Linked DNA regions of Homo sapiens: regions 2 and 3 are each linked to region 1. The links come from fine-mapping of genetic effects on gene expression. A gene starts in region 1. Each other region holds a variant in brackets. All regions are shown on one strand. Distances are between the middles of the regions. Region 1 holds the start of MLXIPL (MLX interacting protein like). Region 2 has its middle 3.4 kb from the start of STX1A. Region 3 overlaps BAZ1B (bromodomain adjacent to zinc finger domain 1B).

Evidence for each region. PIP is the estimated chance that this variant, and not a neighbour inherited with it, causes the effect. A credible set is the group of variants that fine-mapping cannot tell apart.
Region 2: its variant is the best candidate, but not a certain one, in a credible set for the expression of MLXIPL in transverse colon (GTEx, PIP 0.64).
Region 3: its variant is the best candidate, but not a certain one, in a credible set for the expression of MLXIPL in atrial appendage (GTEx, PIP 0.78).

The regions. Positions count from the first base shown.
Region 1 is chr7:73,622,178-73,626,374 of GRCh38, reverse strand. MLXIPL (MLX interacting protein like) reads left to right here and starts at 1,853. Exons shown (of 17, transcript NM_032951.3): 1 at 1,853-2,175. The coding sequence starts at 1,883.
Region 2 is chr7:73,720,925-73,725,121 of GRCh38, reverse strand. No RefSeq gene overlaps it. Among named protein-coding and RNA genes, the nearest start is that of STX1A, 3.4 kb to the right of the region's middle. The variant G/A (reference allele first, on the strand shown) is at 1,980.
Region 3 is chr7:73,506,011-73,510,207 of GRCh38, reverse strand. BAZ1B (bromodomain adjacent to zinc finger domain 1B) reads left to right here. Exons shown (of 20, transcript NM_032408.4): 3 at 1,737-1,881. It also overlaps the pseudogene RNU6-1198P. Among named protein-coding and RNA genes, the nearest start is that of BAZ1B, 14 kb to the left of the region's middle. The variant T/C (reference allele first, on the strand shown) is at 2,305.

The DNA.
Region 1 (4,197 bases):
GCTATGACCGTGCCTCTGCACTCCAGCCTGGGTGACAGAGCGAGACCCTGTCTCTAAAAATATATAAATAGGCTGGGCACGGTGGCGCATGCCTGGAATCCCAGCACTTTGAGAGGCTGAGGTGGGCAAATCGCTTTAAGGTCAGGAGTTTGAGACCAGCCTGGCCAGCATGGAGAAACCTCGTCTCTACTAAAAATACAAAAATTAGCTGGGCATGGTGGCGGGCACTTGTAATCCCGGCTACTCAGGAGGCTAAGGCAGGAGAATCGCTTGAACCAGGGAGGCAGAGGTTGCAGTGAGCCGAGATCGTGCCATTGCACTCCAGCCTGGGTGACAGAGTGAGCCTCCGTCTCAAAACAATAAATAAATAGAAGTATATAGATAAATAAAAATACAAAGAAGCAGGAACAAAAGCTGGACCTCAGTGTCAGTGAGAGAAGGGGCTCAGAGCTCCTGGGTAGATGCCTGCCTAGGGGATGTCCACCTTCCAGTGAGCCACCCATCCCTACCAGTAACAGTCCCTCGAGGCTCCCCTTGGGCCTCTCTGTGCAGGTGAAGTAATGATCACAATTTTTTTAATATATATTTTTTCTTAAGTATTTTATTTTGTTTTTGAAACAGGATTTCACTGTTGCCCAGGGTGGAGTGCAGTAGGGCGCGATCTCGGCTCACTGCAACCTCCACCTCTTGGGCTCATGTGATTCTTCCACCTCAGCCTCCCGAGTAGCTGGGATTATAAGCCAAGCACGCATCGTCACATCCGGTAATTTTTGTATTTTTAGTAGAGAAGGGGTTTCTCCATGTTAGCCAGGCTGGTTTCGAACTCCTGGCCTCAAGTGACCCACCCACCATGGCCTCCCAAAGTGCTAGGATTGAAGGCGAGAGCCACCGCGCCCGGCCACCGTGTTGGCCACCATGTTAACTAGAGGTGTTAGCAACCTCCTGTGGGCCAGGCCCTTCAGGGGCATTACCTTGGGCTTACCACATCAGGCCCCTGAGAGTTGGGGGCTTCTACCTATGTGGAGGACCCAGAAGAGCTAATATGGGGGGCGGGGGTTGGAGGTGAAGGGCAGGAGTTAGGTGAGGGGAGATGGTGATCTCTGGCCTCACAGGAGGGTGCCCCTGAAAGAACAAACCCCAGGTCCTGAGGCGCTTTCAGGCTCAGGTGTGATAGGGGACCCTTTTGTTGTGGAGACAGGGTCTCACTCTGTCATCCAGGCTGGAGTGCAGTGGCGCGATCTCCGCTCACTGCAGCCTCAACCTCTTGGTCTCAAGCGATTCTCCCACTTCAGCCTTCGGAGTAGCTAGGACTACATGCACACGCCACCATGCCTGGATAATTTTTGTATGTTTGGTAGAGACAGGGTTTTGCCATATTGTCGAACTCCTGGGCTCAAGGAATCCTCCCACCTCAGCCTCCCCAGTAGCTGGTATTACAGGCTTTCTCCACTATGTCCGGCTAATTTTTGCATTTTTTTGGTAGAGATGGGGGTCTTGCCATATTGCTCAGGCTGGTCTCGAACTCCTGACCTCAAGCCATCCTCCCGCCTTGGCCTCCTAAAGTGCTAGGATTACAGGCAAGAGCCCCTGGCGTCCGGCCTGACCTTTCTTAATATCCCTTTGGAGCAAAGTAGGGGCGGCTCTATCAGGACTCCAAGGAAAGACGGGAAGGGAGATGGGGCCAACCCGCCAGAGCTCCAGAGCACCGGGTTCTCACCTGGCGTAAGGATTATGCTAATACAAGCCCCGCCCCGTCCCAGGCCCCGCCCACCCGATCGGCCTATGGTGTGGGGGCGGGGCTATGTTAATGAGGCCCGGCTGGCCAAGAGCTGTTCCCCGCGCTGCGCGGAGCAGGGACCAGGCGGTTGCGGCGGCGACAGCCATGGCCGGCGCGCTGGCAGGTCTGGCCGCGGGCTTGCAGGTCCCGCGGGTCGCGCCCAGCCCAGACTCGGACTCGGACACAGACTCGGAGGACCCGAGTCTCCGGCGCAGCGCGGGCGGCTTGCTCCGCTCGCAGGTCATCCACAGCGGTCACTTCATGGTGTCGTCGCCGCACAGCGACTCGCTGCCCCGGCGGCGCGACCAGGAGGGGTCCGTGGGGCCCTCCGACTTCGGGCCGCGCAGTATCGACCCCACACTCACACGCCTCTTCGAGTGCTTGAGCCTGGCCTACAGGTGAGGGCGGTTCCGGGCCCTGACGGCCTTGGCTTCCAGGTGGGGATGGGGGGGGGGTCCGGGGCAGGACTGCGCGCTGGGGCCCTCAACACCCCACCCGAGCCCGGTCCTGCGGCTCCCGGAGGCTCCGATCACGCCCTGGACACCCCCTTTCTCCCAGCCCCGAGGTCCTCCTACAGCGGCCCAGCCCGCTGGCCCCTGACGGACCCACGCATTTCTGATTCCCATTCCTCCCCCATTCCCTCTTCCCCGAAGCGCAGACCGCCTGCGCCCCACCTCTACCTGGACCTCTGGTCCCCTCTCTCTGGTCCCAGCCCCTCCGTCCCTACAAAAATGCCAGGCGCCCCTGGTCCCTAGGCCACCCGCGCCCATCCCCACTCTCCACTCTGGAGCCACTCCACCCGACCCCCTGCAGGCCTCGGCCTTCTCCCCAGCAGCCCCGGCCCAAGCCCGCCCTATTCCTGGACCCTGAGATACTCCCAGCGCCCCTGATTGTCCCAGTTCATAACCAAAGTGGACTGGAACTGGCCCACTCTCACGTCCACCTCCCCGCAATTGCTGAGACACCTCTTCTTGATCTGCTACATTAAGGGTGGCGGGAGGAGGATGTCCCAGAAATGTCCAAGAGGCGCAGCTCGCAGAGGTTACGCCGGTGCCCGGGAGGCCTGGGTTCGCCTACCCACGTCGCCACACTAGGCTGAGCGCCCGTCGCTGCCTGGGACCCCCGCTTAGTGCCACCGAGAGCGCACAGGCCGCGCCCCGCTGCCGCTCCACGCCCCGCGTCCCAGAGGAGGGCGCGAACCCGAGGCCTGGCCCAGTGCCCTGGAGCAAAGTTCCCCGGAGTTGAGGGGCCAGTATAAATTATCAACCGAAAACCCGTAGGGGAGAAAGGGGGATCGGCCGGCCTTGATCTTTTCTCTGTGCAAATATTCCTCTTCCTCCGCGGCGCCTCCTCCCCTTCTGAGAACCGCTGGCTACAGATCGGCACCTGCCGCCCTGCGGGGGAGCAGGAGCTGGGGTGGGGACTGTGAGGGGAGTGTTGCCTGCCCCCAACCGCAGCCGCCCAGCTGCGACCCCATTGGCTGGAGGCGGAGTAACCTTGGCCCACAAGCTCTGGCCCCTGGCCCAGGTCATGTTGCAACCCGATCGGCCAGGGCGTCGGACCCGTGTGGAAAGTTCAAATTCCCGTCCCTTCTCCCTCCCTCCCCAAATGTCACGCGACTGCCTGGGACAGGGCATCTAAGGTCCTGGTACACCGGATGCCGGCACTCCTCCTCCTAAGGGTCTCCCATTTCCCACCCAACCCCAACTTTGGCTGCTCATTATATACTACACATCACTCTATTTGGGAGGGGGCCTCACTTCCAACCCTGACGATGGGTGACCAAAGAGGAGAGGTTCTGGGGAGCTGGCAAGGTAAGGGACAGAGCGCACCCCCAAAATTGCCCCCCCACCCAGAGGCTGACTCAAGGCTGATGTAACCCCAGTCAGAGATAGCTGGGGTAGAGAGGACTGTGTTTTCTTCCCAAATACCCAAATATTAATAGTAAATCTCTGGCTGGGCACAGTGGCTCCTGCCTGTAAGCCCAGCACTTTAGGAGGCCAAGGTTCTCATCCAAGGATTGCTTGAGCCCAGGAGTTGGAGACCAGCCTGGGCAACATACTGAGAACCTGTCTCTACCAAAAAAAAAAAAATTTTTTTTTTTTTTTGAGACAGAGTTTTGCTCTTGTTGCCCAGGCTGGAGTGCAGTGGTGCCATCTCAGCTCACTGCAACCTCTGCCTTCCGGGTTCAAGAGAATCTCCTGCCTCAGCCTCCTGAGTAGCTGGGATTACAGGCGCCCACCACCTCCAGCTAATTTTTTGTATTTTTAGTAGAGACGAGATTTCACCATGTTGGCCAGGCTGGTCTCAAACTCCTGACCTCAGGTGATCCACCTGCCTTGGCCTCCCCAAGTGCTGGGATTACAGGCATGAGCCAACATGCCTGGCCAAAAAAAATTTTCTTTAATCAGCCAGGTGTG
Region 2 (4,197 bases), 99 kb before region 1:
TGCCCGGCCTGGCCTCACTTCCTTCGAGCGCATTCTCTTACCTCCTCTACTCCAGGCCTCCTCGCCTCCTTGCTGTTTTGTCATTCACACCAGGCAGGCTCCCTCCTCATGGTTGTTGCACTTGCTGTTCCCTCTACCCAGAATGCTTTTCCCCAGATACCTACATGGCTCACTCCCTCACCTCCTTCAGAGATATACTCAAATACCACCTTCTCATCAAGGACCTCCCTGACCAAATCATCTAGAATTGAAGCTGGGCGCAGCGGCGCTTGCCTGGAGTCTCAACTACTCAGGGGGCTAAGGCAGACGGATCACTTGAGCCCAGGCATTCAAGACCAGCCTGGGAACATATCAAGACCCTGTCTCTGCAAAAAATAACAAAAATTAGCCAGGTGTGTTAGTGTGCACCTGTAGTCCCAGCTACTTGGGAGGCTGAGGCAAGAGGATCACTTGAGCCCAGGAGTTTCAGGCTGCAGTGAGCCATGATCATGCCACTGCACTCCAGGCTGGGCAACATAGCAAGACCCTGTCTTTTAAAAAAAAAAAAAGAAGAAAAAGGCCGGGCGCAGTGGCTCATTCCAGCACTTCGGGAGGCCGAGGCGGGCGGATCACCTGAGGTCGGGAATTCGAGACCAGCCTGACCAACATGGAGAAACCCCATCTCTACTAAAAATAAAAAATCAGCCGGGCATGGTGGCATATGCCTATAATCCCAGCTACTAGGGAGGCTGAGGCAGGAGAATCGCTTGAACCCTGGAGGCGGAGGTTGCAGTGAGCTGAGATCGTGCCATTGCACTCCAGCCTGGGCAACAAGAGCAAAACTCTGTCTCAAAAAAAAAAAAAAAGAAGAAAAAAGAAAAAAAAGAAGAAGAAAAAAAAACTTGAACTGTACCAGTAAAACTGGAATTCCTCACTCAAACCCAGTAAGTAGTTCCTACCCCGTCTTTCCTTGTAGCATATCATCACCATTATATATGTTATTTATTTGTGTGTTTGGCATCTTTACTAGACCACAGACTGCATGGGGGCAAGGGCTTGTCCATCTTTTTTTCTGCCATATTCCCAACATCTAGAATAGCGGGCACATAGTAGATGCTCAATAAATACTTTTTTATTTGTATATATTTTTGGACAGGGTCTCACTCTGTTGCCCAGGCTGGAGTAGAGTGGCACAATCATGGCTCACTGAAGGCTCAAACTCCTGGGCTCAAGCAGTCCTCCCACCTCAGCCTCCTAAGTAGCTGGGAGTACAGGTGTGCACCACGATGCTCAGCTAATTTTTAGAAAAATATTTTTCTTTGGAGACAGGGTCTCCGTGTGTTGCCCAGGTTGATCTTGAACTTCTGGCCTCAAGCGATCCTCCTGCCTCGGCCTCCCAAAGTGCTGGGATTACTGGTGTGAGCCACCACCACACTCAGCCTAATAAATACTTTTTTTTTTTTGAGACGGAATCTCGCTCTTTCGCCCAGGCTGGAGTGCAGTGGTGCGATCTCTGCTCACTGCAAGCTCTGCCTCGCAGGTTCACGCCATTCTCCTGCCTCCGCCTCCCAAGTATCTGGGACTACAGGCGCCCACCACCATGCCCGGCTAATTTTTTTTTTTTTTTTTTTTTTGTATTTTTGGTAGAGACAGGGTTTCACCATGTTAGCCAGGATGGTCTCGATCTCCTGACCTCGTGATCCGCCCACCTCAGCCTCCCAAAGTGCTGGGATTACAGGCATAAGCCACCATGCCCGGCCAATACTTTTTAAATGAAGGAATGAAGCCTGGGTATGGTAGCTCATGCCTGCAATCCCAGAAATTTGGGAGGCCGAGGTGGGTGGATCACCTGAGGTTAGGAATTCGAGACCAGCCTGGCCAAGGTGGAGAAACTCCATCTCTACTAAAAATACAAAAAATTAGCCAGGTGTGGTGGCACATGCCTGTAATCTCAGCTATCTGGGAGGCTGAGGCAGGAGAATTGCTTGAACCCGGGAGGC[G/A]GAAGTTGCAGTGAGCCAAGATTGTGCCATTTTACTCCAGCCTGGATGACAAGAGTGAAACTCGGTCTCTAAATAAATAAAGGAATGATAATCTGGCCCTCGATGGGCTTCCCTTTTCTGCACAATAGTTTAGCATCCAAGGCCTCCCCCTTCCTTGGGCTCATCCCCCACCTATGTCCACCCAAGTGCCACAGCAGGCTCCTGAGGTGCTCCCGGTAGAGTGCTCCATTTTAGAGAGCTCCCCACCCCCACCCCTGCCCCAGCATCCTTCCTTTGTCCACTCCCTGCTGCAATCCCACTGCAACACCCTGTTCGAATGTCACCACCTCTGGGAAGCCACCCTGGTTCCCTCACCTACCAAAACCATGTCTGTCTCCCCCACTGCAGTGGGAACATCTTGAGTGCAGAACAGTGGCCCCAGAGCATGGTTTCCCATTTAATGTTTGATGAATGAATGAATGATTAAATGAGGAAAAGACTTAGCAGAAAAACAGAGTTTAAAGAGAAGGGCAAGCCCGGGTGCAGTGCCTCACACCTGTAATCCCAGCACTTTGGGAGGCCAAGGCGGGTAGATCATTTGAGGTCAGGAGTTCAAGACCAGCCTGGCCAACATGGTGACGCCCCATCTCTACTACAAATACAAAAATTAGCTGGGCGTGGTGGCGGGTGCCTGTAATCCCAGCTGCTCAAGAAGCTGAGGCAGGAAAATCACTTGAACATGGGAGGTGGAGGTTGTAGTGAGCCTGGATTGCACCACTGCACTGCAGCCTGGGTGACAGAAAGAGACTCAGCCTTAAAAAAACAAACAAACAAAAAAAAGAAGTGAAAGGCACACTTTTTTTTTTTTTTTAAGAGATGGAGTCCAGGCTGGTCTTAAACTCCTGGCCTCAAGCAATCCTCCCTCCTGGGCCTCCCAAAGTGCTGGATTACAGGCATGAGCCACTGTGCCTGGCCACATTTATTTCTTTATTCATTTTTCATGCTACTATTTAATATGCGTCTCAATGAGTGATGCTTGGTGTGACACCAGGGCTCTCAGAGGGCAGGAGCTGAGCCTCCCTTTCCTGCCCTCTCCCTAAGGGGCCAGACACTGGGCTCTGGGGGCATACCTGTGACCCACCCCACTGACTCACCCTGCAGGCTAGACCAGGAGTCAGGCAGACTCCCCTGTCACTTGTCATCTCTGGGCAAGTTCCTCTAGCACTTACCTCCTTACTTTTCCTCTGTGAAGTGGGGCGCCATCAATGCCCATTCTGCAGGGCACCCAAAGTTGAAGCCGGGACAACTGGAACAGGGTGTGGCTGTTCCCTCTGCCAGGCCACATCGGACCGTCTTGGGCCAGATTTTCCAGGGAAGAAGGGAAAGCTGGAACAGTGTCCCTAGCTTGCCTGGCAGCCAGCTAACCTGTGCCCATAGTCTGGGAGAGGTGCCAGGCCCAGACACACTGGGCAGCAGGGGGCTGGATTGGCTCCAGAGCTCCAATGCTTTGGCAGTCCTGGGGAAGGGAAGGGATGTGCTTGGCTTCAGGTCAAGAGGGTGTGGGCCACAGAAGTGACAGCTGGGGGTGGTGGAGGGCACAGCGGGCTTATGGGGGTGTGTGCGAGACCACTGTTGCAACAAGATGCTGGCAGGGACCTTCAAAAGAACATCTGCTGTTGACTGGCCTCCCCACTCCCACTCCTCCACAGGTTTTCCCATGAGTCCTAGAGGAAGCCAGGCCCCAGGCTTCTAGATAGAAAATAGAACCTACATTGGCCAAGTGTAATCCCAGTGCTTTGGAAGCCCAAGCCAGGAGGATCGCTTGAGGCTAGGACTTTGAGACCAGCCTGGGCAACATGAGGAGACCCCGTCTTTACAAAAACGAAAAAAGAGAAAATAGAACCTCAGGCCTAGAGCCAGAGTTCAGGATTGGGGATGCAGGGAAAGGAGGAGAGGGGGGCCATAACTCAAATCTCTTTCCCAAAGATAGAGTAGTTCCTGGCTGGGTGCAGTGGCTCACACCTGTAATCCCAGCACTTTGGGAGGCTGAGGCAGGCAGATCACTTGAGGTCAGGAGTTCGAAACCAGCCTGGACAACATGGTGAAACCCCTTCTCTACTAAAAATACAAAAAAATTAGCCAGGCGTGGTTGTGGGTGCCTGTAATCTCAAGCTACTTGGGAGGCTGAGGCAGGAGAATTGCTTGAACTCGGGAGGTGGAGGTTGCAGTGAGCCAAGAT
Region 3 (4,197 bases), 120 kb after region 1:
TCCTCCCGCCTTGGCCTCCCAAAGTGCTGGGATTACAGGCGTGAGCTACCGCGCCTGGCCCTTATTCTTATTTTTATTTTTGAGATGGAGTCTCACTCTGTTGCCCAGGCTGGAATGCAGGGGCACGATTTCGGCCCACTGTAACCTCTATCTCCTGGGTTCAAGTGATTCTCGTGCCTCAGCCTCCTGAGTAGCTGGGTCTACAGGCGCTCACCACCACGCCTGGCTAATTTTTGTGTTTTTAGTAGAGATGGGGTTTCACCATGTTAGCCAGGCTGGTCTCGAACTCCTGACCTCAAGCGACCTGCTCATTTCGGCCTCCCAAAGTGCTGGGATTACAGGCGTGAACCACTGCACCCAACCGGGTATGATAATTAAATTTTTTTTTTTTTTTGCTAGTTTAATAAGTGAAAAGTGTTAAATCATTGCTGTCCTTTTGCAACAGCTCTGGTGTTCAAGTCACGTTTCCAACATGTTAACGCTTCCTGGTTTCCTTTTTTTTAAGAGGCACAGTTTCGCTCTGTTGCCCAGGGTGGAGTGCAGTGGTATGCACATAGCTCCTGGGATCAAGCCAGCCTCTTGCCTCAGCCTCTTACGTAGCTGGAACTATAGGTGCATGCCACCTCACCCAGCTAATTATTTTAGTTTTTTATAGAGGCAGGTTCTCACTCTGTTGGCCAGGCTGGTCTCAAACTCCTGGGCTCAAGCAATCCTCCCACCTGTGCCTTTCAAAGTGCTGGGACCCACTGTGTCCAGCAAACTGCATGTTTTTTTTTAATCTTTGTATTCCCCAGTGCTTTACGTATATTTGCTAAAGCAGTGTTGTTTTGCTGTGAACCTAAAACTCGTAAAATGTTAAGTGTTTTTTTTTGTTTGTTTGTTTTTTGAGACTGAGTCTCTCTCTGTTGCCCAGGCTGGAGTGCAATGGTGTGATCTTGGCTCACTGCAACCTTCGCTTCCCGTGTTCAAGTGATTCTCCTGCCTCAGCCTCCCGAGTAGCTGGGATTACAGGCATGTGCCACCACGCCCGGCTAATTCTTGTATTTTGAGTAGAGACAGGGTTTCGCCATGTTGGCCAGGCTGGCCTTGAACTCCTGACCTCAGGTGATCTGCCCGCCTTGGCCTCCCAAAGTGCTAGGATTACAGGTGTGAGCCACCACGCCCAGCCAAAAGTTAAGTCTTTTTTTTTTTTTTTGAGATGGAATCTCGCTCTGTCGCCCAGGCTGGAGTGCAGTGGTGCGATCTCGGCTCACTGTAAGCTCCGCTTCCTGGGTTCATGCCATTCTCCTGCCTCAGCCTCCCAAGTAGCTGGGACGATAGGCACCAGCCACCATGGCCGGCTAATTTTTTATATTTTTAGTAGAGATGGGGTTTCATCGTGTTAGCCAGGATGGTCTTGATCTCCTGACCTCGTGATCCACCCGCCTCGGCCTCCCAAAGTGCTGGGAATACAGGCGTGAGCCACCGCGCCCTGCCCAAAAGTTAAGTCTTAAAAGAGGTTAGGTGCAGTGGTGCATGCCTGTGGTCCCAGCTACCTGAGAGGTAGGAGGATTGTTCGAGCCCAGGAGGTGGAGGCTAGTGAGCTATGATTGTGCCACTGCACTCCAGCCTTGGTGACAGAGCGATAAATGTTTGAAATGTTTGGAAAAGAAAGAAAGAAATGTTTGAATTGACTTGAATTAAATCTCTGGGTAGGTGTTTCTGTGTTTTCTTGATAACTAATTACATTTATTTAGTTTGAAGGAGGAGTTTCCTGCCTGGTATGAGAAGCTTGTTCTGGAAATGGTTCACCATAACACAGCCTCCTTAGAGAAGTTAGTAGATACTGCTTGGTTGGAGATCATGACCAAATATGCTGTGGGAGAAGAGTGTGACTTCGAGGTGAGTGCCTGTTCGTTTCTGATTTGACTTACCATCAGAATTAGAGCTGTCATCGTAGGTTACAGAACACATTTCTATGTGTGTAAAACTGTGTTATATTTAGTATTATATTTAATGTTAAGTATTAATACTTTACGTTAATACTTGTGTGTTTTCTTGGTTTTGTTTTTTTGAGATGGAGTCTCACTCTGTCGCCAAGGCTGGAGTGCAGTGCGCAATCTTGGCTCACTGCAACCTCATTCTCCCGTGTTCAAGTGATTCTCCCACCTCAGCCTTCTGAGTAGCTGGGACTACAGGTGTGCACCACCACGCCCGGCTAGTTTTTTGTATTTTTGGTAGAGACAGGGTTTCACCATTTTGGCCAGGCTGGTCTCAAACTCCTGACTTCAGATGATCCACCCACCTTGGCCTCCCATCAATTAT[T/C]ATAAGGACTAAATTTTATTTTTATTTATTTGTTTAGAGACAGGGTTTTGTTCTGTCACAGAGTCTAGAGTGCAGTGGTGCAGTCATAGCTCACTGTATGTAGCCTTGGACTCCCTGGCTTAAGCCGTCCGCCCACCTCAGCCTTCTGAGTAGCTGGGACTGCAGGCATGTGCCATCACTCTTGGCCTTGAACCAAATTTTAGAACCACATTCATCACTGAGAATGTTTTAGTATTGTAATAATTGCAACACTTTGTTGTACTGGTCTGTCCTTTGTCTTTTTCATCCTTTTTTGATAATTCTGTTATTTTGTCTTTTTGGTTTTGATTTTTCTTTTCTTTTTTTATTTTTCGGAGACAGGGTCTTAGTCTGTCATCCATGCTGGAATAGTGCAGTTTCGCGATCTTGGCTCATTGCAACCTCTACCTCCTGGGCTCAAGCGATCCTCTCATGTCACCCTCCATGTAGCTGGGACCACAGGTGTGCGCCACCATGCCTGACTAATTTTTTGTATGTTTTGTAGAGATGGGATTTCACCATGTTGCCCCAGCTGGTCTCTAACTCCTAAACTATTCTCTTGGCCTTCCAAAGTGCTGGGATTACAGGCATGAACCACTGTGCCCAACCCATGCAATGACCATGCTAATCTTCTCCATATTATTCCAGTTTCATTATATGTGCTGACAAAGTGAGCACATAATTGTTACTATGTTGAAAAGACTTGCAGGCCGGGCGTGGTAGCTCACACCTGTAATCCCAGCACTCTGGGAGGCTGAGGCAGGTGGATCACGAGTTCAGGAGATCGAGACCATCCTGGCTAACACGGTGAAACCCCATCTCTACTAAAAATATAAAAAATTAGCCGGCCGTGGTGGCGGGCGCCTGTAGTCCCAGCTACTCGGGAGGCTGAGGCAGGAGAATGGCGTGAATCTGGGAGGCGGAGGTTGCAGTGAGCCGAGATCGTGCCACTGCACTCCAGCCTGGGGGACAGAGCAAGACTCCATCTCAAAAAAAAAAAAAAAGACTTTAAGACTTTTTTTTTTTTTTTCTTTGAGGTGGAGTCTCGCTCTTGTCGCCTAGGCTGGAGTGCAATGGCGTGATCTCGGCTCACTGCAACCTCCGCCTCCCTGGTTCAAGTGATTCTCCTGCCTCAGCCTCCCGAGTAGCTGGGACTACAGGCGCCTGCCACCATGCCCTGCTAATTTTTTATTTTTGGTAGAGACGGGTTCTCTCCATGTTGGTCAGGCTGGTCTTGAACTCTCGACCTCGGGTGATATGCCTACTTCAGCCTCCCAGAGTTGGGATTACAGGCGTGAGTCACTGCGCCCGGCCTCAGACATGTTTAATCCAAGTCCTCGCTGTAATGAGAGTTGGACTTTTTCTACTTAAATTTTTTTTTTTTTTTAAGATGGAGTCTCGCTCTGTTGCCTAGGCTGGAGTGCAGTGGCATGATCTCAGCTCACTGCAAGATTCGCCTCCTGGGTTCACGCCATTCTCCTGCCTCAGCCTCCCGAGTAGCTGGGACTACAGGTGCCCACCACCACCCCCGGCTAATTTTTTTGTATTTTTAATAGAGACGGGGTTTCACTGTGTTAGCCAGGATGGTCTCAATCTCCAGACCTTGTGATCCACCTGTCTCGGCCTCCCAGAGTGCTGGGATTACAGGCATGAGCCAGTGCGCCCGGCCTTATTTGTTTTTTAATTATCCAGTCAAAATAGCTAAAGGATAACTATTACAAAAGTGATACCGAACACTAAAGCAATCCCTGTATAATCTTGTAACAGCTGAAAGTAAGATTCAGGAGAAAAAACTAAACAGTTGTTAAATATCTATCTGTATGTACTTGACACTGGGCTAATTGCTTTACATAATGTCTTGCAGAATTTGCACGG